4 linked regions of the Homo sapiens genome follow. The protein of the gene in region 1 purifies or fractionates together with the protein of each later gene. This does not show direct contact. Each region holds a gene or a part of one and is shown on either strand. Other genes may lie near its edges.

Region 1 (7,037 bases):
CATCATCCTCATCTGCTCCGCGCTTCTCTGGGCCTCTGATCTTTTTCTTCTTTTTTAACGCTTTCTTCTCAGCCCGAGCTCTTTTCCGTTGTTCAGCCTTTTCTTCTTCTTGCTGCACAAGGGCTGCTTCCTTCTCTGCAGCCTAGAAAAGTGGGAAGATGATGCATCGCTGGATGTGGCAATTACATTCACTGTACTGATTTGTCATGAAAGGGGAGAAGGAGTGGAAATTCATTACTAATGAAAAGCAGAGATCAGGAGAAAAACGTGGACAGGCTCACGGCTGTTCCACACCAGGGCTCATTCAGGTTCGTTGGAATTCTGGATCTGATGTCTCTGTTACATTAGCAATTTCCTCACCCTAATCATTACTCACCAAAAGGAAGGCAAAAAAATCCATAAAACTGGCCGGGCGCGGTGGCTCACGCCTGTAATCCCAGCACTTTGGGAGGCCGAGATGGGTGGATCACGAGGTCAGGAGATCGAGACCATCCTAGCTAACATGGTGAAACCCCATCTCTACTAAAAAAATACAAAAAATTAGCTAGGTGTGGTAGCGGGCACCTGTAGTCCCAGCTACTCGAGAAGCTGAGGCAGAAGAATGGCGTGAACCCGGGAGGCAGAGCTTGCAGTGAGCCGAGATCATGCCACTGCACTCCAGCCTGGGCAACAGAGCGAGACTCCGTCTCAAAAAAAAAAAAATCCATAAAACTGAAGCCCTAAATAAGTTGGGGTGTTCATGTTCCACTCACTAGGCTAAGTGAGGCTCTTCTTTATTCTTTTTCATCAATTCTCGTAAATTTTAGAGCCAAAATTCCCTCACTAAATGAAACAAGTACTTAATATTGGGGCTGATGTTTTAGAACAATGTAAAAATGACACAAGACAGGTTTAAGCATTGATCTAAATATTTTATAATTAATACTGAGTAAAAGACACTTAGGAAAATGTAAAACATCTTGACAAGAAACATCCATACCAAACTGAGCCAAAATAGCTACCAGAGGTGCCAAAGACTTCAAACATTGTCATTACCTTCATTCTCTGCTCATTGACACGAGCTAATCGGGTTTCAGTTTTCTGAACAGCTATATCCCAATCTTCTAAAGAACCTTGAAAGAAAGAGAAGCAAAACTTTCACTCTTTAGGATTTTGAAGGATACAATCACATAAATTTTTCTTAATTTCTCTGTACCTCCAGAAGAGATCTCTCCCATCAAACAATAAGAAAATGTAATCCCTGTAGGCTTGAAGTTCAGAATTCAAATAGTCCTTCTAAGTGGGTTTAAAATGTCCCTCTCCTTTCAGGAGAGACTTGAAAACCAGAATATGATCTATTAAGGGCTCTAAATGGCAAAGAATATGAAAACGAACGTTCTAATGCAAAAGTACATTTATATTAAGACTGAAGAATTTTAAGAGCTACTCAAATGTTGAGGCATTTATTTCTTATTTTTTGGTGGTCTTTGCAAGCCAGTTCTGAGGGGTCCATACCCAAAATCCAGACCAATACCCACAGATAAGTTCACATTATTTTTCTATTGGTTCTAGCTAACACTGAAGGCTCTGAAATTTAACAAGGGATGCAAAGGACACATTGAGCCATTTGCCTCTCCAAGCTCCTTTGTTGGATAGATGTTGTACTAGAGCACAGTGACTCTCAAAGGAGGGATCCTGCCCATCAAGAGACATTTGGCAATGTTAAGAGACATTTCTGGTTGTCATGTTTGGTTGTGGTGGTGAAGCTGCTACTGGCATTTCAGGGCTAGAAGCCAGGGATGCCCCTAAACATTGTATAACGCACAGTCCCCCCCACAGAGAATTAGAACCCTGTGCTACAGTGACATCACAGAGTCCTCCTTGTAGCTGCAGAATTTGAGAAGAGCTGCAGGAGGACTCATTTTCAGGACACTTGTGACAGTCTAATCATAGGGCACCACCTAAGGTGGCAGCATAAACACAGTCTGTCCCCAGACTGTAACCAGATGCTCCTACTTGAGACCAAACAGCAAATGGGTTAGGCTCCAAGCCAGAAGAGAGCTGGGGGTCCCACCTTCTGTCCTCTCCATGGTGAGTAACACTTCGCAGACGTGCTCTGGGTAGTCACTGGTGCACTGGACGGCCCGGTGCAGAGCCTTCCGGCAGTGCTGGGTGTCACCATGAGCTCTAAGGCAGAAAACAAAAAGTTGCTGCCACCAGGACACAAAGTGGAAGGCACTCGAAGGGAGAGGCCGTCTTCTCCCAGGTAGAAACTCACTCTTCAGTAACTCTAGCTTCTGAGAAGACCTTAGCTTTCAGATCTATCCATGATGCTTTCTCCTTCCAGAGTCTCTACAGTCACCTACGAAGTATTTCCCTGAAGCACTCTCTCCCTCAGCCATGTAGGGGCTACTGGAAAGTGTACCTGATATTGTGATCTGCAACCAGCATTCTGCCTTTACAGCATTCACATGTGCGGCACATGGCGGGGGAGTCCAACAGCTCTCTGTAACCTGATACAGTCCCCAGGGAAATTTTACTATGGCGTCCTACTGACAGGAGAGTTATGAATCCAGGGTAGTGTCAAATTTCATACCCAGAGTCAGATCTTTTTTTTTTTTTTGAAAGGGAGTCTCGCTCTTGTCACCCAGGTGGGAGTGCAATAGCACGATCTCGGCTCACTCCAACCTCTGTCTCCCAGGTTCAGGCAATTCTCCTGCTTCAGCCTCCTGAGTAGCTGGGATTACAGGTGCCCACCACTACACCCAGCTAATTTTTGTATTTCTAATAGAGACAGGTTTTCACCAGGTTGGCAAGGCTGGTCGCAAACAGATCCTTTTTGTACACTGCTAATCACAACAGCTACACAATTCTGCTAATCATAACTGTTATGCAACAGTGTATTCATATTTGTTTTTAAAACATTTTAAATATACATAATTATATATACATATTATGATGCTCAGAATAAATTCAGAGCACTGGTTCTCAAAGTAAGATCCACGTACCCCTGAGGATCTCCCAGAGCCTCTCAGGGGCCCTGCAAAGTCAAAACTCCTTTTATAATAATACCAAGACATTACTGGACTTTTTCACTGTGTTGACATCTTCAAGACAGTGCACAAGTAATGGTGGCCCTTAGCACAAATCAAGGCAGTAGAAATCTTTTTAATGCACTGTGTGATGAAATACTAAGTACACTTAAAGCCCTTCTGCATACTGAAGTACAATGGTTATTGCCAAAAAAAAAAAAAAAAGCATATTACTGTTTGAGTTGCAAGCTAATCAAGTCATTTTTTTCAAGGACACCATTTTTACTTGAAAGGAAACTTGAGTGACAAACCACGGTCAGTTACTCAGACCTGGGTATTTGGCAGACATTTTTGAAAATTAACAAAGTGAGGCTGCCACTCTGGGGAAAACCACTGACATTATTTGTTGCATGTGATAGAATTCAAGCTTTCAAGTGAAAATTAGAATTTTGGAAAACTTGTATCTGCCACCACAAGTCTGACAGCTTCCTACTTAAAATACTTTTCAACTAAGATCAATACAGATATGAACAAATACGATTTTTTAATACTATAGGATGAAATATGTCAACATTGGAAGAGCTGCATGATTTAGTGAATTGGGATTTTTCCAAATAATGTCGTAGAATTGTGGCATCAAGTAAAAGATAAAATAGACAAATGGGTATTACTGTAACAGACTCTGTCAATATGGTTTCAGATTCCACATGCAACACTGAAGTTTTGCTATAATATGTATGAAAGAAGAATACCCACAATTATCTGAAAATGCTTCTAAAATACCTTTCTTTCCTAACCTCTTCAATGAAAACAACAGATCACAACAGACAGAATCAGTAACAGACATGAGAATTTAGCTGTCTTCTCCTAGGTCAGAATAATGTGCAAATAAATATATTTGCAAAAATAGAAAACACTGCCACTTTTCTCACTATATTATTTTGGGGTCTGGAAAACAGTCACTGCTCAAAAAAGATATTAATGTTAGATAATTTGTTATATTTAAATAAATTAAAATGTTTTTTAGATTTCTCAATTTATAAATTATAAATATCAATAGATATAACTCACATACATAAAAGTTTTTTGGGATCCTCCAATTTTAAGAGTGGAAAATGGATCCTGAGACCAAAAAAATTGTGAACTGCAGATCTAGGGGGATATTCAACAAGCTTTAACAGTGGTTATCTCTGGGGTGGGATTGTAAGAAACTGTCACGTTTAGCCGGATATGGTGGCTCATGCCTGTAATTCCTACACTTTGGGAGGCCGAGGTAGGAGGATCACTTGAGGTCAGCATGACCTACATGGTGAAACTGTGCCTCTTCTAAAAAAAAAAAAAAATCCAAAAATTAGCCAGGTGTGGTGGTGCACGCCTGTAATCCCAGCTACTCAAGAGGCTGAGGCAGAAGAATTGCTCGAACCCAGGAGGCAAGGTTGCAGCTGAGACTGCACCACTGCACTTCAGCCTGGGCAACAGAGTGAGACTCCCCACCTCCCCCGAAAAAAGAAAAGAAACTGTCGCTTTCTATCACATATTTTTGTAAATATTCTAATTTGGGCACACAGTGTTTTTTAAATAGGGAAAAAATCTTCAAAAAAGAAAACCCAGCAATGTAGCAATGTTATGCAATGAACAACGTTCAAGACAGACTGAAAAGTTGGTCACATTCTTTATGTTTTCCCCATGTTATAAATATTGTTAGGCCTATCTTATTTCGTTCAAATAGTTTTAAAGGCTTGTAACACATGCATGCTATAATTGCATTTTCATTACAAAAAAATTTAAACATAGAAAAGTCTCAAAGAATGGGTCATGGTTATGACTGGGTCAGTAATTTGAGTTTTTTTTCTCTTAGCTTTTTAGTATTTTCTACTTTTCTATAAAAGCAAATATAAAAAACAAATAGCTCCAAAAGGTCAAATAAAATATCATGCCCAAAAATCAAGACAAAAACAAATTAAAAGAAATGCATGGCTATAAGAGTTCCAGGCACAAAATATCATGTCTGGTTCTCTAGCCCTGCCCATTAAAAATGTACCCACTACTGAAAGAGACAGAATGAAAGAAAACAGCCCAGTTCTAAGGAGCTAGTCCAAGCTGGTAGGAGTCAGCCAGGAGTGAAGACAGGTGCACAGCTGACAAGCACTGCCTCCCTCCCCACCCCGAGATCAGTTACCTTTCCAGGTTGTAATACTCTAGCCACATGTTGGCGTACTTGGCATTTCCTCTGGTCATGATGCTATCCCAGAGTTCCCGAGCTTTCTGCATGTTATTGCACAGTCGAGCCTAAAGTGCATCAGCAGGCTGTTAGGAGACCTGAACCTTATGACGTCGACACCCATCATACAACACACTTCCAACAGACACACATAAAAAGCACCCCACAACTATTAGTGTTACAGATGTCCCTGGGCATTCCCCAGGCCTCCCTCCAGTGGTAAACGACCCAGCCCAAACACTTGAGCCTTTCTGCAGCCACAAGCTAATCTACCTATGTTTCCTGAGAACCGAGAGAGGGAGCGCACGGTACTTACTCGACAGTACTAGATAGTCACGTTTTTTATTTTTATCAAGCTTAACTACAAGTGTTTGAGAGACAATGTTAAAAAAAAAAAAAAGACTGATCTAGTATTAAATGCACACTCTGCTACTAATACTTACAAACTGTGACTTGGGCAAATTACTTAACCTGTAATTCTCAGTTTTCTCATCTTTAAAATGGTTAAAAGATAAGCATCCCATATAAAAACTACCTGACAAATGTTAGTTTCTTCTATCTGACGCTCCCTCCGAGGAGAAAACATGATTAGAATTGTTACAATCCTACCTGCTGATCAAGGGAGGTTCCGTGTCTTACTGACCTTGGTGTCCCTGACCCAGTAATGACATTCAAGTCATCATATCCTCTAATTACTTGTCAAATCATCTGTCTTCTACATTAGATAGAAGCCTTACTAGCAAAGGAATTTTATCTGTCTTATTCCCACAGCACCTAGTACAGTGCTGACAAACAGTACACGCTCACTGTGCTCTCACAAATGAAGCAAAGAGGCAGAGACAGAAGTAAACGAGTGAATACCTAGCATCTAAACATTTACTGCACAACTTCTAGCTGGGAGCTAATATTTTCACCAACATATTTACAAATATATGTCAAGCTAGGTAAATAACATGAATCCTTGTGGAGCCTAGACCATTACCTAGGTAATAACATAAATCCTTATAGAGCTTAGGCCATTATCTGGGATTCTGACTCAATTTTAATTAAAGTTTAATAGGATGCTATTAAACAATGATGGATGAAAGTGCTAGATGTGTCAAAAACATTTACCTCAATCCTAGCCCAGTTCTGCATAATCACGCAGCTTGGATCACCACTCTCATTGAAACCTTCAAAAACAGAATTAGTAAAATTAGAAAGGAACTTGGAGACAGATAGTCGCTGGCTGAAAAGGTACATCAACCAGGAAATAGTACAGACAAGGAAATACAACTGGGCAAAACCACAGGCTGGGGCATACTTACGCTCTTCCACCTCCTGCTTCAGATACTCCAAGGCACGAGTAAAGGCGGCCCTCAACTCCTCCAGCTCTTTACTGGAGTCTAACGGAAAGTGCAAAAAAAGGCTTTAGGAAACCACATAGCCTGGCTTTGTTTTATTTTTTATCCTATGCTGAAACTGCCTGGAGACCCACTATGTACCTGGCATCATGCAAGGGACACAGAAATAAAATTGCCAATTCCTGCCCTCATCACATAGTTGGGGAGAAAGAAATTTGAACAGAATAGAGCATGGACAGCGTGGTGAAAAAGGCAAACACAGGGTGCTGTGGGGGGGAGTCTCCCCCAGCTGGGGTGACACAGGCAAACAAGAGAATGGCTAAAGGCTACCTGTATGAGGTGACAGCTGACATGAGTGTGCAAGTACAAGTTAGGGGTTTTCTGGTTGTTTTCGGGGGGACATGAAGGGGCAAAGGATCCCACAGAGGTACAAAGATTTTTCTAAAACACAGCAGACTTATT
Region 2 (7,945 bases), on another chromosome or scaffold:
TGAGCCACTGCACCCAGTCTATTGTCAGATTTTTTAAAAGTCAATTTGGTGGTGTGAAATGGTTTCTCATTGTGTTGTTTTTTTTTTTTTAATTTGCATTTCCCTTATTACTACAGTATAATAAAGTTGAGCATCATCAAGTTTTCGCCCATTTTTCTGGTGAGCTATTATAGTTATATTCTGAATATTTTAACCATTATATGCACTGAAAATATTTTCTTCTGTCTTTTCACTTTAAGTCTTTTAATGAAAATTTATCAGTCATTTCCTTTGTGGTTTCTGCTGTTGTCTTTAAAATATTTTCTTCTCTAAAGTCAAAAATATAACTTACACATCTTCCAAACATTTATAGTTTAACATTCAGTTCTTTTATCTACCTGGAACTGTGTGAGATAAAGAGTCTAATTTCTATTTCTTCATACAGATAACAATTATTCCAGTATAACTTCTTGAAAAGTTCTTCTTTTCCCCCCACTGACTCTCAGTGCCAACATTGTCACTTATCAAACTTCTATAAATATGTGGGTCTTTCTGTGAACTCTCTGTTCTATTTTATTGGTCTGTCTATCTCTGTGCTAATATCATACCATCTTAACTCAAATTTCCCACCTTGTGGTTCTTTAAAAATGTTTCTGCTATCCTTAGCCCTTCGCTCTTACACATAAAATTTAGGAGCACTTTTTCAAATTAGAGAAAAAAATTAGGATTTTGATTGTCATTGCTTTGAATCAATAGATCAACTGGAAGAAAAAAGTTTGCAATATTGAATATTCCTATTCAACAACATGGCATCTCTCAATTTTTAAAATTCTTTTTAAGGTCCTAATAAAAGTTTTATCATTTCTCTACAAAGGTATTGCACATCTTTTACTTAGGTAATTTATATTTTTGATGCTCCTGTAAGTTTTTGAAAATTACATTTTAACTGTTGCTAAAGTAGAGAAATGCAGTTGATTTCTGTACACTGAACTTTGATAGTCTTTTACTGTCTATGTAGATTATTGGCTCTTTAATCCATGAATCACTTAATTTATAAACATGTATTTGTTAGCTATCTTCTGTTAAACTTTTGGTATTAAAAAAACACATATTCCTTTTTTTTTTTTTTTTTTTTGAGTCTCACTCTGTCACCTAGGCTGGAGCATGGTGGTGCAATCTTGGCTCACTGCAACCTCCCTCTCCTGGTTCAAGCGATTCTCCTGCCTCAGCATCCCAAGTAGCTGGGACTACAGGCACGTGCCACCACGCCCGGCTAATTTTTGTATCTTTAGTAGAGATGGGGGTTTCACCATGTTGGCCAGGCTGGTCTTGAACTCCTGACCTCAAGTGATCCACGTGCCTCGGCCTCCCAAAGTGCTGGGATTACAAGTGTGAGTCACTGCACCTGGCCAAAACACACATTTTCAAAATATAAAGATTGATTCTTTTGAGTTTCTGAGACTTCCTTCATGGCCTATGTGTTTTCAATTTTTATAAACTTTTTCATGTGTCCTAGAAATGAATGTGTGTTCTCTGTGGGATCCAGAGTTCCATATATATTTATTAAACCAAGCTTATACAACATTTCTGGAAGCAATTTTTATACCACAACTAATTTACAACTAATTTCATTTTTTGAACACGGTTATGGTTTAACATTCAGCTTGGTTCAGAATTAAGTATCTTTCAGTTATGTACCTCTTCAACACTCCTACAATATGAACGTTACTATCTCCTTTTTGCCAAAGCAGGACTAGATGTTCAAAGGGTAACTTGTCCAAATTCCACAGCAATTGAAATAGTTGAAATTTGAACTTTGATCTGTTTCAGTTTGTTACAACACAAGGCTTCTAGCCTAGAAATCTCAGCTATTCTTTATTCCACCTTTCCCTTCATCTTCCAATATCTATTGGGACATGGGACCTTTAAATTCTACACCCTAAAATGTTCCCTGATCCATCTCATTTATTATTATTTTCATTTTCACCAAAATCAGTAGTCAAAGAATATAAATGCTAGTGATAAAATACCACTAGCACACTATGTTGTTGCAATTTTTACGCCCTTTCACCTATATTACGGTATTTCATTTCATTAATAAGACTAATCAAAATAGGTATTACAACTTAGGAAACTAGTTCTCAGAGTGTTTATGTAACATATTTAAACTCCCAGACAGCAAGTGACAGATCCAGTTTTCTGAATGATAGGACTCTTTCTGTAGCCCTGTATTAGTAACAATGTTATTTTTAGAATAAAGTTTTAAGAATGTATTATCTATTGTAAAACATCAGACTAAAGCCAGATTCCCGGTGGGGAACGCTACTCTCAGGATCCTCTCACTCAGTTCCATTACCTCACTTCAAAAAACCTGAGGCCCAAAGTGGTGCTGTGACCTCCTAAGTGGAAAAGCTAGTACTCGAATTCGGATCCTCCATCTGGTGTCATTAACTCAGCCTCCCGGAATACGGCCAATCAAACGGAATTACACCAGCTTCTCAGAAAAAGATCTAATGGCTGTATCACAAAAGAAGGCATCTATTTCTCAGAATTTGTAGCCTTAATTGCCTTGGTGAATCCTCAAGGGACATAAATCCATCCTTTAACAAAGATTCCTTTGGATAGTAGAATGGTGAACGTTATTGCGCTTCCATTACCGCCCTCCAATTGGGAAGCCCCCAGCATCGAATTCGGAGGGCCGGCAATAGCAGCTCATGCCTGTAGGGTGCGTCCACTGACTGCAGGAAAAGCAATCAGGGTGGGAGAAACTTAGGAAACCACCCAGGGCCAAAGGAAGGAAAACTCAATGTACAAATTTTTTTCCGCTGGAGGCAAAGGCTGACATCCATACCTGTACTGGGCAATGGTCAGCGTAGCCTCACGTTCGGCCCCAAAGCCAGACAAGTGCTGGTTTAGGTAGGCCTCCAGGGACTTGCTGTCGAACTTGTGCTGGGGCAGCACTTCGGCCAAATCGGACTCGCCAGTAGCACCTGGCTTCATGATCACCCCCGCAGGCCACAGCAACGCGGCATCCACAGGTCTCGAGTGCCGAAGTCCTTCAGGATTGGGGCAACGTCCCCTCTAGAGCATGGGCCGAGGCCGGGGTGGGGTCTGGCTCCAGCCAACCGCACACAGCCTACGCGCCGTTGCTGAGCAACGCTTGCCCGCTGAATCCCGAGGTTTTAGCTCTAGTCAAGTGCCAAAAGAGCCCAATGTGTGTTCGGGTTTCAATTCTCCAGTCAGCGTCAGAGTTGGAGGCCTCAATTTTAAAGAAGGCAAAGCCATGGTCATCGTTGCGGGTAAGGAACAACGCAGAAGCCTCTTCCACCCCCAAATTTAATGCAACAGCAGGCGGAAGACCTGCAGGGTCCCGTTCAGAAAAAGGGCCGTCAGACTGTCGAGCCTAAGAATAAAAAGACCCTGTTTCTCTTAGATACCCGGTTAGCAAGGCAACATCGCTGGCCTCCTGCCCTGGACACTTATCACCCCGGTGCTGCTGCGGCCGGGTTTAGCCGGCCCAGCGAGGAAGGAAGCCGAAAGAGCCAGGTTTTTGATGAGGGGGAGCGATGTCTGCGACGCACCGGAAGCGGCTCCGAGGAAGGCCTGTGGGAGTCTCGGAGACGTGTCTGTCTGTGAGGCGCTGGGTGCACGTCCCCAGGGCTCTGGGCTAGGAAGGCAGCGGCGAGGTGCCTCCCCACGTACCCCTCGCGGGCCCAGCCGAGCAACGTGGGGCGAAGGCGGCGGCGAAGGCCCGGGCTGGGAGCGTTGGCGGCCGGAGTCCCAGCCATGGCGGAGTCTGTGGAGCGCCTGCAGCAGCGGGTCCAGGAGCTGGAGCGGGAACTTGCCCAGGAGAGGAGTCTGCAGGTCCCGAGGAGCGGCGACGGAGGGGGCGGCCGGGTCCGCATCGAGAAGATGAGCTCAGAGGTGGTGGATTCGAATCCCTACAGGTAACCTGCGTCGCCGGTCGGAGGCAGGCGCGGGGGACGAGGTCAGGCTCCGTGAGGTCAGAAGTGAGGCGCTTCCCACGTCCCGCTCATGGGGACGCCCGCCACCCTTTTCTTGGTCTGCGAATCCTGTTCCCAAATGGGCAAGGCCACATCTTAGTACTGATCGGAAGATATTCTTTCTCTTTTTTAAAAACCTCCAGTGAGTCAGCCATATGGTGCTGCTCCTGTGCCTGCTGAGGACGTGTGTCCAGTTTCCTATCACCCTTGCCTCTTAATTAGTCCGCCTCGCTGTGTATAAGACTGATAGTAAGAACTTTCAGAAGATGAGATCAAATATTAAACCTGCTAAGGTAAACTTTGAGTTTCATTAAAGGCTTATCAATGCATCTTAAATGGGGTCGGGGCGGGGGAGAGCGGGGTTAGCTCTATTCTGAGATATTCGGGTGCTCCTTAACATCTCAAACCATTCGACATTACCAAGACTGCCCAGGCCTCTCTTTTCTTCTTTCCTAACAAAGCTTATCAATTCAGCAGATGGAATATAGTGCAATGGTTAAGGGTAAGGACTCTACCGCCAGACTGATTGCAATTCAAATCTAACTACTCTCTTCGTAACTGCCTAACCTTTGGCAAGTTGTGAAACTTTCCGCTTCAGCTTCTCACCTGTACAATGAAGATAATAGTAATATCTATCTCTGTCATAGTTGTGGGGATTGAAAAAATCAGTATGTATAAAGGTCTTAGAGTAGCGCTTGTACATGGCAAGCCTTATACAAGATTTTATTGCTAGGTGCATTTAGTAGCAAGCAGTTATTGAGCTTTCACTGTGTAAGCACTTTACATGCATTGTCTCCTCCCACCAAAACCCTATGAGATTGCTACTATTTTACCCCCATTATATAAGTGAGAAAATTGAGGCTTAGAGAGCCACCTCAGGTTCATGCCTTGGTAGTAAATAATAAGGCCTGTCTTGCATTAGATTTGTCTTAATGTAAAATTCTCATGAACCGTCTCCCCAGTAAAAACAATTAAGTCGTGTAGCTAAAAATTGTATAGTGTTAAAGTAGATAAGGAAGATTTTATTGTTGCTTTTTTCCTTTAAAGAGCATAACAGTTTTGATTTTTAAAAAAGGTTTTAGTTTGTGATATATAAAGCCGCAGTAGAAGTCTTAGGGTGCACTGTTTTAACTGTGTTGCCAAATATGAACGGTTAATGGTCCAGAATTTTTAGAGATTAAATAAGCATGAACTGACATCTCTAATCAGAATAAGTGGAAACTATTTGACATTTTTAAAACATTTTAAAATTTTACAAATGAAGACTTTGAAATTTTCCCTCCAGAATGAAAAGCAGAGGAATATGGGTCATGAATTTAAGTTGTCTTTCAGACATTATTTAATATGAGATGATCCCTTGACATTGTAATTATAACAAAACTTTCAGAACTCAAGTCTAAATATGTAGTATTTTCTATCTGATTTGCACCATTGACTTTATTAAAATTGCTATACAGGAGATGGCAGTTTGATACCCAAAGCTGTTCACTGATATATGGAATTTTAATAAAGTTCAGCTTTAATTTTTTGAATTGTTCATACAGCAAATATTTACTGAGTACATTTTTGTCTCCAGTCCTCCTTGACAATATTATTTACTTTGTATTGAGTACTTATTGTGTGCAGACACTGTGAATATAAAGTAGACATGGTCTTTTCCCTCTAGAGCTTACCAGATGAGTGTGAGATAAATAGAAAAGTAAACATGCCATTGCAGTACAGGTGATAAGAATTATGATAAAGTACAGTGTTATTATTGATAAAGTACAGGTTATTGAATTATGATAAAGTACAAAAGGTTATAGGAAAGGGATATGTATGTGTTCAACACCATTTTAATTGCTTCAAGAGATACAAAAGAAATATAAAGCACCTGACTTTTGCTTCAGTTTGAGAGACTACATGGAGGTGGGATATTAAAAAACACAAGTAACCGTAAAATTATGTGTTATGGAATATAGTTATAAGCATGTGGAAAAATTGGAGAGGCTTTGAGATTAGAAAACCTGGTATCAAATCCTGGCTCAGAAACCCAGCTCAGAATACCACTTGCCAGTTAGCTGATTTTGGGCAGTTGATTAACCCAAACCGTTTCCCTCATCTGTAAAAGGGGGTTGCCATCCATGCTTCTCAGATTATTTAAAGATTGAAGGGAGCATCAAGGTAAGGATAGCAAATTCCTGTGATGGATCTGCCATCACTTTCTACCCAACCTCACTAAAGTGACAGTAAAGGAATTTTTTAAAAGAAACTCCCATTGAAAATATAAAGGGTTCGTATTAATAACTGATAGGGAGGGGTGGGTCCCTGTACTTGATTATAGTAACAATTTGGAAACTAGAGAAGGGATGGGTGAAGGTAACTGATTTAATAGATTCAGAGAAGTTTAATCTTAAGCTCGCAACCCAGTTTATTGCAAGAATCCCCCAAAAGGCTCAGGAATAGGCACAGGTACTTGCAGAACTTCAGGTAGGGCTAAAAAAAACTTTCAGTTGAAAATCTGTTGAAGAAACAAAAGCCCCAGATCCCCTACTCCACTGTGGGTAACTGGGCAAACACTCCTTCCCTACCAGAAGAGGAGAGTAGAGATTTCTTCATTAGAAAGAGTAAAATAGAAGATTTCCAAGAATAATTGGGGCAGGTCTTTGTACCTGAAGGAAGGGGTAAACTGATTGTTTACATGCTGAATGCTGTGACTGAATGTAAACTAAATGCTTACATACTGAGTGTCGAGACTCCCAGCCTTGCTTCTTCACTTCCAACAGCTGATCGTGGGGTTGGAACTCCAACTCAGGTTGGAGTTTGAAAGATTATTCTCTAGGGAATCTGATAGAGCCAAGAGGAAAGACTGAAAGACACTGACATTGTGGGTTTCTCAACTAAATAGTCTGGCCAGATGACCCTACAGTGAAGTCCAAAGTCAAACAGTTATTGCCTATATTGTTACCTTTATTAGTGTCCCACACTTAAATATGAACAGAACAAAGGATGAAAGAAACTTCTAACATGAAAGAAATAAAAATAGCAACTTGGATAGACTATGTAAGATAAACACATCCCCCTAAATTATCATTAGTATCCTTAGATGAGAGAAGATATGGTACAAATGATACAGGAACAAGGTGCAAAGTATTTAGATGATCAGGAATTCTTGCAAATGGAGATGGTAATAGAAATGAAAATCTTAATAGAAGTGTTGGAAAATAAAGTTGAAAGAAATCATCCAGAGAATAGAGCAGAAAACTAAAATAGTAGATAACTGGAGAAAGAAGATAAAGGACAAATCCAGATGGTTCAACTTCCAAATAATAGGAGTTCCAGATAGTCCAGGAAAAACAAACCAAACAAGGAAGTAACCAGATTCTTCAAGGACATTTCCCAGAACTGAAAATGTGAGTTTTCATTTTGAAAGAGTCCACTAAAAACTCAGCACAAGGGATGAGAACAGATTCACATTAAGGCACACTGTGAAATTTTACAAGCTAGGAGACACTGGAGCAATACCTTAAAATGTTGAAAGACAATTCTAACTTTAGACTTCTTTACCAAGTTAAACTATCGATTAAGAGTATATGTGTAGCTTCCCACAATTATATGCCCTTTGCTTTGTCATTTTTATAAAGAATATAATTTTGATAAGGAACATTTTCAGAAATGAAAGTTCTCAAAATTTACCTTTGCCGTACCCTTTGCAAAACTACTGGAAGATGTTCTTCTAACCACAGCAAGAGAGTAAGTTTAAAAATAATTGATGACAGTGTTTTAAACTGTCATGTGCATCAGAATTACTGGAGGGCTTGTTAAAGCAAATTGTTGGACTCCACATTCAAGATTTCTGATTCAGTGGGTGATTATAGGGTAGGGCCTAAGAAATTGCATTTCTATTAAATTCTCAGGTGGTCCTGTTGTTGATCCATAGACACTTTAGAACTAGTGAGCTATAGCATACAGGAAACAGTGGA
Region 3 (3,402 bases), on another chromosome or scaffold:
GTTTAATTTGGACTTCTGGTCCTGATCAGATAGATAAATTAAGCTGGAGATTTTACTTTTATCCCAACCCAGTTAACATCTATATTTCAGAAGTATGAGGCTCCTTCCTAAGGCATCTCCTTAAATCTTGCCACCTCCCTAATTCTACAGTCTTATTTATATTCCCCCACAGCTTTCATCTACTTCTGTAACTCATGGAGTGATTCTCCAATCAACAGATCTTCCTGCCTGCCGGCTTATGCCCTTGATGTCCATTTTTGGGTAGGTTTGGAGGTGCACCCCACAATGTTAGACCTATATGGCAGGAGTAAAACTGCCCCCAGTGTTAGACCTATATGGCAGGGGTAAACTGCCTTTGGGGGAGCTGTGGTTACAAGGGCTTCAATCATATTGGAGGCTTCAATCATCCTTTGATTTGTACTGAGTACTGGTTGCAAGCTGGCCTGTTAAGTATATATTGTGTTGCCATAACAAAGGCCTAGGAAAATTTGAAGAAAAAAAACACTGAACTGTTATTTTTTGTAATTTATTTAAAAATGGACAAAATGGTTATTAGAATCCAAAGATAATCTAAAAACAGTTCTACTCTTTGGAAATATTATGTGTACTCAAATTTGCACTTAAGTTGGAGAATGTTTTGAGACCATTTAAATTGTTTTAAAAATAGCTTGATCTTGATCCTTATGCAAAAGAAACTAAGACTTTGTGTCATTATTTGAGGTAGCTAAGGACTGATGTTGAAAGTGTATTCAGTCTATAGTAAGCTGATGTCAGGTCAGTAAATTTTGTTTGGGGATGTTGGTATTTTCGATCAAGTTAAAATCTTAAAGCAGACAAAAATAGTAAACGCTCCTATTTGTGTTAGATTTTGAACAATTGTATTACCCTATATTTTCTTTAATTAGTCAAAGGTAAGCCAGATTATTTCATTCTAAATGAAAATTAAAGCACTTTGGCCATTTATTTTTTCAACAAATGCTAATACTAAGTAAAAAAAAAAAAGTATGACTACTATTAGTGAATCTACCAAACATTTATGCTGTTTTATACATTTTATGAGAAACTTCTGTCAATATCACAAAGGGAAATACTCTGTTAAGATTCAGTAAATTCTTAATCTTTACATGTTTCATTTCTTAGATTTGAAAACACTTGTAGATATTTTATTTTTACTTGGATTTGTTTAAAATACTTTCTTTTCAAATTATTTTAAACATGGAAACGCTTCATGAATTTGTGTCATCCTTGCACAGGGGCCATGCTAATTTTCCCTGTATTGTTCTAATTTTAGTATATGTGCTGCCGAAGTGAGCACTAAAAGACTTTCTTTAGACAAGTGTAGTTTTTTAAAGATTGAGCTCACTGGCTCAACTCTTGATGTGTGAATATAGTTGAGTTTACAAAAAATGTTTATTAATCATATATGACCATTGGGGGCTAACAGTATAAACTTATTCTTGTTAAACTTGTTTGGGTTAAATAGTAAGTGAATTGTAAACAATTTAGAAGTTTTTTGTTCAGCACACAAGAACACTTCTGTTACAGATTCTCTCTGACAGAAATTGTTATTTTGGGGTTTATAGATTATAGAGGGAAAAGTTAGATCACTTGGAAAAACCTAACTCTCATGTTCAGTAACTTGAGTATAGAATTTATACCACAATTTATCTTCAATAAGGAACCTACATGAACTTAATCAGTTATCTGTAGTTTTTGCAAGGCATTAGAAAAAATTTCACAATTACAGAGGACTGAAAATGTGATTTCAACCGGCTAGTCTAGTTGTTGAATGTCCAGTCACATTACACATAGTCCTTTGTGAACTTATTTGTGAAGGGAGTTCACTTTTTATGTACATACGTGTATATTTCCTTGTGTAATATAAAGCAGATGGTTATTAGTATTTTAGTTCTTTCAAGTTTAAATTATTCAATTGCTAGACATCACAGAAATTAGTATATTTAAGAATTTATTATAAAGCTCCTCTACAACTTTTAAAGGTGAGAGGGTCTATTATGATTTTTTTATAAAATCAAACAGCATGATTTAGAACGTCAGTCTTCTACTTAAAATGTGTCTATATTCATGGTATTTCCATTCAGTGTAGATGGTAAGGAAAACATCTAGTCATTAAAGATTTACTTATAGCAGACTCCAGAACACTACCTACAATGGGGTTTCAGTGACTAGAAATCTTGAAGGTTTATGATTGCATCAAATTGAGCCTGTACTAATATCTAAATATCTGCTCTTATGTTCTGCTTTATCCCTTGGGATTACCTTCTAAGGTTTGGTCACACCAGCAAACTGAAACAGATCTTAATGTACATAAAAAATTTATACTAATATTACTCATCTGTGTTACAGTATTTTGAAAAATGTTTCAGGTGTCATCTAGTCGTCTTTCATGGGTGTGATTAGTTACAAATGTTATGCTTATGTTTTCATACTTAATATCAAGCTTTCTTTGTACCTTACAAGATAGTATTTTTGGTTCTAAAAAAAACAAGCAAACTTCATTTTTGTAGTATCCAGAAATTACCTGGAGTCAGTATTTTTATTCGCCTTCTAGAACTTGTGATCCACACATCACCCATTTATATTAGTGGTAAAATTATCTGCTAAAATCTAATTGTAAGAAAGGCTTACCTTCTGTCATCAAGTGATTGTATCATCCTGGATCGTCATTTCCAAGGAACTAGCCTTTCTTTTCCTAAGCGTCTGTATGTGTTCTAAAACTTCCAGTATATATTTATAGAACTTAGAAAAAATGTTACATTATTCAGAGTAGCAAGTCTTACTGGAGTACCTATGTTTGTTTTCTTGGTTTTTATTTTTTTTTAAGTTTAAAAGTAGTAATTAAACCTATATTTTGTGATTGTTTCCTGGTCTGTGTTTTTAAATTCCTTTCCTTCAGTTTTCCTCATGAAGATGTTTCAGATACTGAATTTGTTTAGACATTGAATGACTTTGTTAAAGGCACAATTAATCACATTGGTTGTACTCTGAAGACAGACTTCTTTAAAAAAAAAATAAACAATTTAAAACAATGTGGTGATTATAGATTAATGTAATATACGCCATCCTTAAAACCACAACATATAACAGATCACAAAAGTGCTTTCACCAAGTTACAACCGTAAATCCTTACCTTTTTACATCATCTAAGTAACTGCAAATAAATTTCTCCTCAGGGAATCAGTGCAGTCTTCTTTTTCCTTTTAAAACTTAGCTGGAGTTACTTAAACTAATTCTTAATACTATTCTGAAAGTATAAATATATTGTTTAGAATACAGAAAATGCTAAGAGAGTACAAAGACTTTAGTATATTTTTTTCATTTTCATGATTCAAGTAGAAAATAGTGCCAAGTAGGTATTATTATACATGGTAAATGAGATGA
Region 4 (7,037 bases), on another chromosome or scaffold:
GCCAGAGCATAGAGAAGAACATTGATGTCTCTGGCCCTTCTGGGTTCATCCCACTTGCCTTATATCGAGGAAGTACAAAGTCTGTACACTTTTTTTTTTTTAACAAGTCTCTATCTAAGATAACTAGAAATCTGATAAATAATTTAGTCTGCTCCAAACTGGTTGCTTAAGAAAACACACCTTGTTTCTTTCAGCCAACAAGCATATATTGATTCTTTACCTACTCTGACCATTTAATTTCATTCCACAAGTCTGCTGCTAGCCTCCTTCCACCACAGACAAAATAATCACTAACATAACGCTCAAAGGGCATTTAAGAGGAGCTATACATGTGGCTCTATTCACATTTCTGTTAAGAGTAATAGATGAGGGGGAAATAAACATTAATTTAACAAAGGGAACAATACTTCCTTTTGGAAACCTCAATCTGCATTTTACAAATATAATAAACATTATCTCAGCAACTAGATAGCTAAGGCAGTCACGGTGGAGGAAATCGTTATCACCAACTAAAATAGGTGAAGCCAATGTCAGGTTCAGAAAATTCAAATTTTAGTTGAAAACTCAAACAACTGTAATTTTACAACTGCAAGAGTCTGCATCTGAACAAGGGTAAGTACAACCAGTAAAAGAAAAAAGCATTTCTGTTCTTTTCCTGAGCATTATTAAATATCCAGACCTAATACCCTAAGCCTCTTAGGATCGTGTACAAGAAATAAAGCTGAGCCATATAAAAAAGCCCTCCCTCTTGGGCACTGACCTTATCAAAGCACAAATGATACAGCAAAGAAGGCAGCAGAGGGTTCTTCTAATATGAGCAATTAGTATTCAAATAATGTGTTGTTTCATGTTATCAGTTTGGCGTTTTTCCCTGACATCCTAACAGGGCCAGACTATTACTCCATGTTATACATGTTTTAAGAACCTATAAACGTTCTTAAGTAACTGTTTTCTTGTTTCACAGGTAAAGTTTATGTGAAAGAATCTTTTGCAAAAAGTTCTAAAACATGGGCTTTTCATTAGGCAGGGCCACTTACCTGCTGGCAAGGCTGAGCAATTCATGTTTATCTGCAACAGCTGACTTCTTTTCAAGTTCCCACATTAGGACATTGATCAGATGTGAATTTTTAATTACAATCGGCACTTCTTCAAACATGTACTCAAAGGTGATATTTGCTTTTTTCAATCTGTGAAGCATGTTAAAAATACTTTAGTCTGATGGTCAAAAGTAAGTGCTAAACTGACTACTTCATAAAATTTACCTAATTACAGGCCCTATCCAAGATCTTTGTTTCATTAGCACTCTTAAAAAAAAAAAAAGTAGAGAAACTGGAGTTTTACAGAGTCAAGCATAAGTTGAGTGATTTGAGTAACTTTGAAAATGATGCGAATTTGAGCTAAAGCCCAGAAAATGAGATTCTTGGCAGAAGAAACTACTCATTCTTTGTTATCAGGTATCTTTAAAATTTCACTGATACTAAAATGTAAATGTCACAGTAAGTTATGCTACACAACCTACACCTACAACTTAATTTAAAATAGCTAGAAATGAGAAATACTCTATTTCTTGAAAAGTTCATTTAAAAAGCCTCTTGAATTAGAGTTTAACAAGTAGCAGAACACAAGGAGACTCCAGATACAATAGTTAGAACATGCCAAGAACACAGTTTCTCATAGATTAGTTATAACCACCACATCCAGGAATTGTTCATGAGTTAGCTTTTCTTTTAAAATTCTCTGCACCTTAACTTTTTAGGAGCCAAATGGGAAACTAGAGAAGAACCGTCCTACATGAAGTCAAAACCATTAATTTTGATTCAATAAGAACTAAAAATTTCTATAATTAACAGAAAATGGAAGAATTCTAAGTATTTAATTTATTTAAAGTAAATATTACAATGCCATTAAATAGGATCCCAAAACAGCTCCATCAGTTAATTCTCTGCATAACTGTCACCCATAAAATTTCCAATAAGCCACATTCTTTACCAAATTCTTAAAATGTTTATATCTTTCCCACCCCCTCATTAAACAAGGGTTCGGAAAATAAGACACACAGCTCACAACCAGTCTGACACAGAGCTTACAATCTGACAGCCACTGATCACTCTTTCCACCTCCCTTTATTCAATCATTTATTTCTTCGAATCCAGTAGCTAATTAATTCCCATTCTAACTGAATTCACCCTTGGTGAGAACAACAGATGAGATATTCCCTAAAGAATAATTTAAACATGGAAAGGGAGAGAGCAAGCAGCACTCGGCATGCAGAAAACTTCTACAGTCCACATGGCAAAAGCATTACCACACCACAACCAAGGATTCAAGAGATGTGGCAAAGAAAAATCTTAACAGAAAAATACCCAACCCTTTACCAGATGCCCCCAAACACTTACGCTTCAGGGGAAAAATCCTTTTCTTTACAAACTTCCATCAGTTTAGGAGTCAGTCTGTATGCCTTTAGTGAGAGAGATCCTTGGGCAGTTTTTATGGGATCTCAAACAAGGAAAGAGAAATAAATTACTAAGAATTTTGTCACTGCCAGGCTTGAATGGCATTGGTTCTAGGCACATTCTGTTACATATCGCACAATCTTTGCAAAATAAAGATCAAAATAAACAACCAGAACACAACTTGAAGCAGACTCAAAGCACTATTGCAAATAGCACTTGAAAATGCAGGAATACCTCTATCCTACTTACAATAGAGTAATTTCCTCTGTCAAAAACTAAAGATGCAAAAGAGTTATTTTCAAATTCATTCCTCAGCAAGAACTAGTAACCTTGCTGAAAATTAAATGTATCATATGTTCTAGACATATTGTATAATTAGGAAATCACTGATAAATATTAAACATGAAAATTCACTGCATGTACTTGGGTAGCTCCTCATTCAACTTAAAATGAATAGCCCCGCACACAAAATTTATCAATCCTAATAATCACTGTTCACATTTCTTCGTTAAAACAGATTGTAAAAACAAAACCATTCAAGTCAAACTGCTATCACAAAAGTGTCTTTCTGGTTTTGGAGAAACTAATTTTGTCAAAGCTAACCGCTGAAACACTCCATGAGTAAGGGAGCTTAGCACTTGCTGCATGATAACGGCTCTGGCATGCCAATATTCGCCTAAAACCTGTGTTAACATTCATGTTGTCTGAAACTTAACACAGTGAAACTTTTAGCAATAGGTGATAAAATGAAAACCAAAATAGATTGAAACAAGTGGAAAATTCATCAAGGTCTGATGATGCAATGTTTCCAGCCAATATAAGTATACTTTAACAACTTGTTCTTTACTGTAATCCAATTGTTAACATACTGAAACAATTTTGGGGCAGCTCATAAGATTGATCGTATTCATTAGTATTTTTTCTGACAGATACTCAGGACGTTACATTTACTTCTCAGCTGGAAACTATATGCAAGTCTGCCAGATATGGCAAACTGTGAGTGTTTGGGGAGGGGGAAGGCTATAAAGCTGTTAAATTGCCTACAGTTCTGATACAGCACAGAACATCTGGTCTGGAGAGCTTGAGGAAACACCATTAAATAGGCCGAAAAGAAAAAAATCTTTGTGCTAAGAAACAGTCCAGGTTTTGTACGCTGTTGTCAGAGGTATAAAAAAAACTTGGCACACCGTATTATGATTGGTCAGTCACGTACAGAGCCAGACACTCTAGCAATCGGGGTTTGTTAGACATCTGGTCTAGTTCCACCAGCCCCTTCAATGAGGGAGGGGAGATGGAGGAATAGAAATGAAGCAGCTACTCCAGCATTCCAAAATGTACACATCAGGGCTCTGATAGCAAGAAAAATAAACAGAAAGAAGGAAACCCTGTCTAGACTGAGCTGCTGCTGAGGCTGCTGCAGAAACAGGGTTGGTATTTACTTGAGAAGGCCTGCCAGACTGCTCTTAGAGGCAAAAAGGACAGAAAGCAAAAATAGTAGTAATAATATTAAGGGAAAAAAGAATAATAAACCTCCTACTAACCATAAATGAGAACGACAGATTCTTCAATGGCATGCTGGTAACTAAACTGAGAGTCCAGGAGTGCCCGGGTAACGAATGAGCCATAGTATGTGGACTGATACCAGCCCACGTGAAGATGATCAATGTTTACATGGCGAAGGCTCCGCATCATTTCCATCTGATATTGGACTGGATGATGGGGAAGAGGAAATTAAAAGAAAAAACTTTTTAATGATGTTACCAACATCAAAAACAAGCCGTTTTGGAAACAAATGTCTACATAACAATTTATTAGCAATAGGGAACAGGATTCCAGATTTAAAATTCATTCAGTTCACATATAAAGCAAAACAAAATTAGGCTTTTAAATCATCAGGGGTTTCCTTTTATTCTTTAATGAAAAAATATTTTGTAGAAAATGTATTACACACAATATTAATACCTTGTTCTAACCAAAGAATTATTAAATGTGGCGTCTAACTCCCCTTTTTGAAACTCTCAAAATAGTAAATGTTTAAGAAAAATTTGTGTAATTACTAAATTGGTTGGTTGTAAGAAGTTTCATTTGAATTAATAAAAGAGGAAGAGTTATCAATCTCTTCTTCAACACAGCTTTTAGAGCTGAGAAACTAAAACCATTAGGAAAACTAAGGAGAAACAACTACCAACCACACTGCTTATATATGAAGAGGATACAGGCTGTAGCTGATTCAAAATGTAAGAGTACATTTTTGCCTTCATCTGGTGCCCCCTGCTGCATATGCTAAATTTTTTAAAGAATTATTTTTTCTTGTCTGTGTGTTCCTTTAAGTAACAGATACTATGTTTTCCTTAGAATAAAGTTATATTTTAATGACCATGTATAGAATGAAAAGGTTTAGTGACTTTTACTTTTGTCAAATTAATGACTACAAAGTATAGTAATGACTATAATGTATACTATATTAAAGCAGTATTACCAGAAAAACAGATTAAAACTAGCAATATAATAAACGACATTTTAAAAAGCAATATAGCACAATAATGCACAGCAAATATATAATACAGGAGAAAACTTTATAGTCAACATAATAGCCATGCTATTTCTATTATTATTTATTATTATTATTATTGACACAGGGTTTCACTCCCATTGCCCAGGCTGGAGTACAATGGCCTGATCTTGGCTCACTGCAACCTCTGCCTCCCGGGCTCAAGTGATTCTTTTGATTTAGCCTCCCAAGTAGCTGGGACTACAGGTGTGAACCACCGCACCCGGCTAATTTTTGTATTGTTTTTTTGTAGAGATGGGGTTTCACCATGTTGCCCAGCCTGGTCTCGTACTCCTAGGATCAAAGAATCCACCCACCTCGGCCTCCCAAAGTGTTGGGATTGCAGGCATGAGCCACTGCATCCAGCCCCAAACTATTTCTATTATAATGAATACATGACCATGCTGAGTAAACGTATTTGCTTAACTTGAAACCTGTTTCATTTTCAAAATTCTTACTCAGGTTTTAGCAAAAGAAAAGTTATATATCTGTCATTCTTTTGGTTATACCACTATGGTTTTACAAAGCCTACAAGACTCAGGATCATAAAGTATAAAAGAGTGTTCCTCAGATGGACACAGTCTGATTTTTCATTACTTGTAGGAGAAGAAGTTATAAATCTGCTTATTCCAAGGAAGGTTACAGTTCTCATGCTAAAAGATGGCAGCCAACTCATCAACTACACAAGAATTGCGTGTTTTTTGAGATTTTTTTTTTGCTATGTAGAAAAGCTAAACAAACAAACAAAAACAACCAAAGTTATTTTGCCACTATCTGAAGAGACTTTCTTAAGCCTACGGCAATGTTGCAACAGAGCTGGAAACTGCACTACTGTAAAGATGTACAGTTTAAGTGCCTGTTTTGAAAGTGGGCTCATTTATTCATAAAAAGGAAAAAAAGTGTTAATATAGAGGAAGTTAGGCTACTAAGGGTATGGGGGAGAAGGTGATACCAGACACCAGACACCAGATACCAGACACCAGACACTTTGTATACCAAACCAGTGTTTCTGTATATTTATGAATAAAATACAAAATCAAAGTCATATAACCTATGCTATACTCTAAACCACCATTAAAAACATCACTACCTTAGAAACCTATTTTATACACAATATGACAGCCGAAAAAGCAGTATGAAATATGATAATCTTACACCAATTATTTTTTATCTTCATATTTTATTTCTCTAGCATGTAAGAGGAACCTCACCTCCCCCCAGCTAGTTTAACAGATTCACATCAACCACATAAATTTGGCAAGTGGGATAGAATCACTGCTATGATCTCCTTCTGTTTCGAAATTCCATAATTCTTTTAAATCAAAGTAAAATCACTGATTTGGCTAATAAATTTTAATCAAATTTAATTTATGAGTGAAAAGTCCCAGTATTATAAGTAAAATGGGAGCTGAAACTGAATTTGCTATTTATTTTAAAGGGAAAGGGAAGAGGAGAGATTAAGCAACTGACAGAACGAGTAAGATTTTAAAAAACATTATTTTTAAATCAAAACTTATGCAACGTATTAGTATAAAATTTAGCTACAATATAAGAAGAGGTTGGAGTCTGCCAACTTATAATAGCAGAAAAGAAAGACTTGGAATCTAGAGGTCGAGGTTCTCATGCCAGCTCTGAGATTTCCCCTGTGGGGATCTTGCTGTACAGTTAATAATTCTTCTTTGATATTTAATTTTCCCATCTCCAAAGAGATCTGAGAACCCAATCCCAGTCAAAACGCTATTATTCCACATTGTTCACTGGACATACTAATTATAAATAAAGAATTTTCTATTAGCTAAAGGGGCCTCCAGCATGCATTATGATTTAAAATAAAAATACATTCCTCTGAAAAATATTCTGTAATCTTGCTAAGTCTGTCCTCAAATAGCCTGAATACAAGAGATTCTCTAACAGCATTTCAGGATACACAAGGTAAAAAACTCCAAGATCCATAGCAAACTTCCAAATTTCTTCTTTATCCAGAGTCTTACCTATTCTACAGCACCTCTGATAAGGGTAAGAATGAAAATGAA

What was found.
Region 2: the proteins of SART3 (region 1) and ACAD11 purify together in Homo sapiens (affinity purification with mass spectrometry; 2 studies listed by BioGRID and IntAct, with this or other methods). This does not show direct contact.
Region 3: the proteins of SART3 (region 1) and NSA2 purify together in Homo sapiens (affinity purification with mass spectrometry; 2 studies listed by BioGRID and IntAct, with this or other methods). This does not show direct contact.
Region 4: the proteins of SART3 (region 1) and EIF3H purify together in Homo sapiens (affinity purification with mass spectrometry; 2 studies listed by BioGRID, with this or other methods). This does not show direct contact.

What each region holds. Positions count from the first base shown.
Region 1 is NC_000012.12:108,530,169-108,537,205, forward strand, and holds part of SART3 (spliceosome associated factor 3, U4/U6 recycling protein), read right to left. Parts: intron 6,618-7,037; coding exon 6,540-6,617; intron 6,405-6,539; coding exon 6,346-6,404; intron 5,301-6,345; coding exon 5,191-5,300; intron 2,167-5,190; coding exon 2,054-2,166; intron 1,113-2,053; coding exon 1,036-1,112; intron 143-1,035; coding exon 1-142. UniProt on the Homo sapiens protein: U6 snRNP-binding protein that functions as a recycling factor of the splicing machinery. Promotes the initial reassembly of U4 and U6 snRNPs following their ejection from the spliceosome during its maturation.
Region 2 is NC_000003.12:132,656,773-132,664,717, forward strand, and holds the start of ACAD11 (acyl-CoA dehydrogenase family member 11), read right to left. Parts: upstream 3,038-7,945; 5' UTR 2,980-3,037; coding exon 2,831-2,979; exon of another isoform or gene 2,725-2,830; intron 1-2,724. Other genes in the region: UBA5 (ubiquitin-like modifier-activating enzyme 5), read left to right, coding at 3,766-3,926. UniProt on the Homo sapiens protein: Acyl-CoA dehydrogenase, that exhibits maximal activity towards saturated C22-CoA.
Region 3 is NC_000005.10:74,777,222-74,780,623, reverse strand, and holds the end of NSA2 (ribosome biogenesis protein NSA2 homolog), read right to left. Parts: 3' UTR 511-3,402; downstream 1-510. UniProt on the Homo sapiens protein: Involved in the biogenesis of the 60S ribosomal subunit. May play a part in the quality control of pre-60S particles.
Region 4 is NC_000008.11:116,654,819-116,661,855, forward strand, and holds part of EIF3H (eukaryotic translation initiation factor 3 subunit H), read right to left. Parts: intron 4,163-7,037; coding exon 3,995-4,162; intron 2,497-3,994; coding exon 2,397-2,496; intron 1,188-2,396; coding exon 1,038-1,187; intron 1-1,037.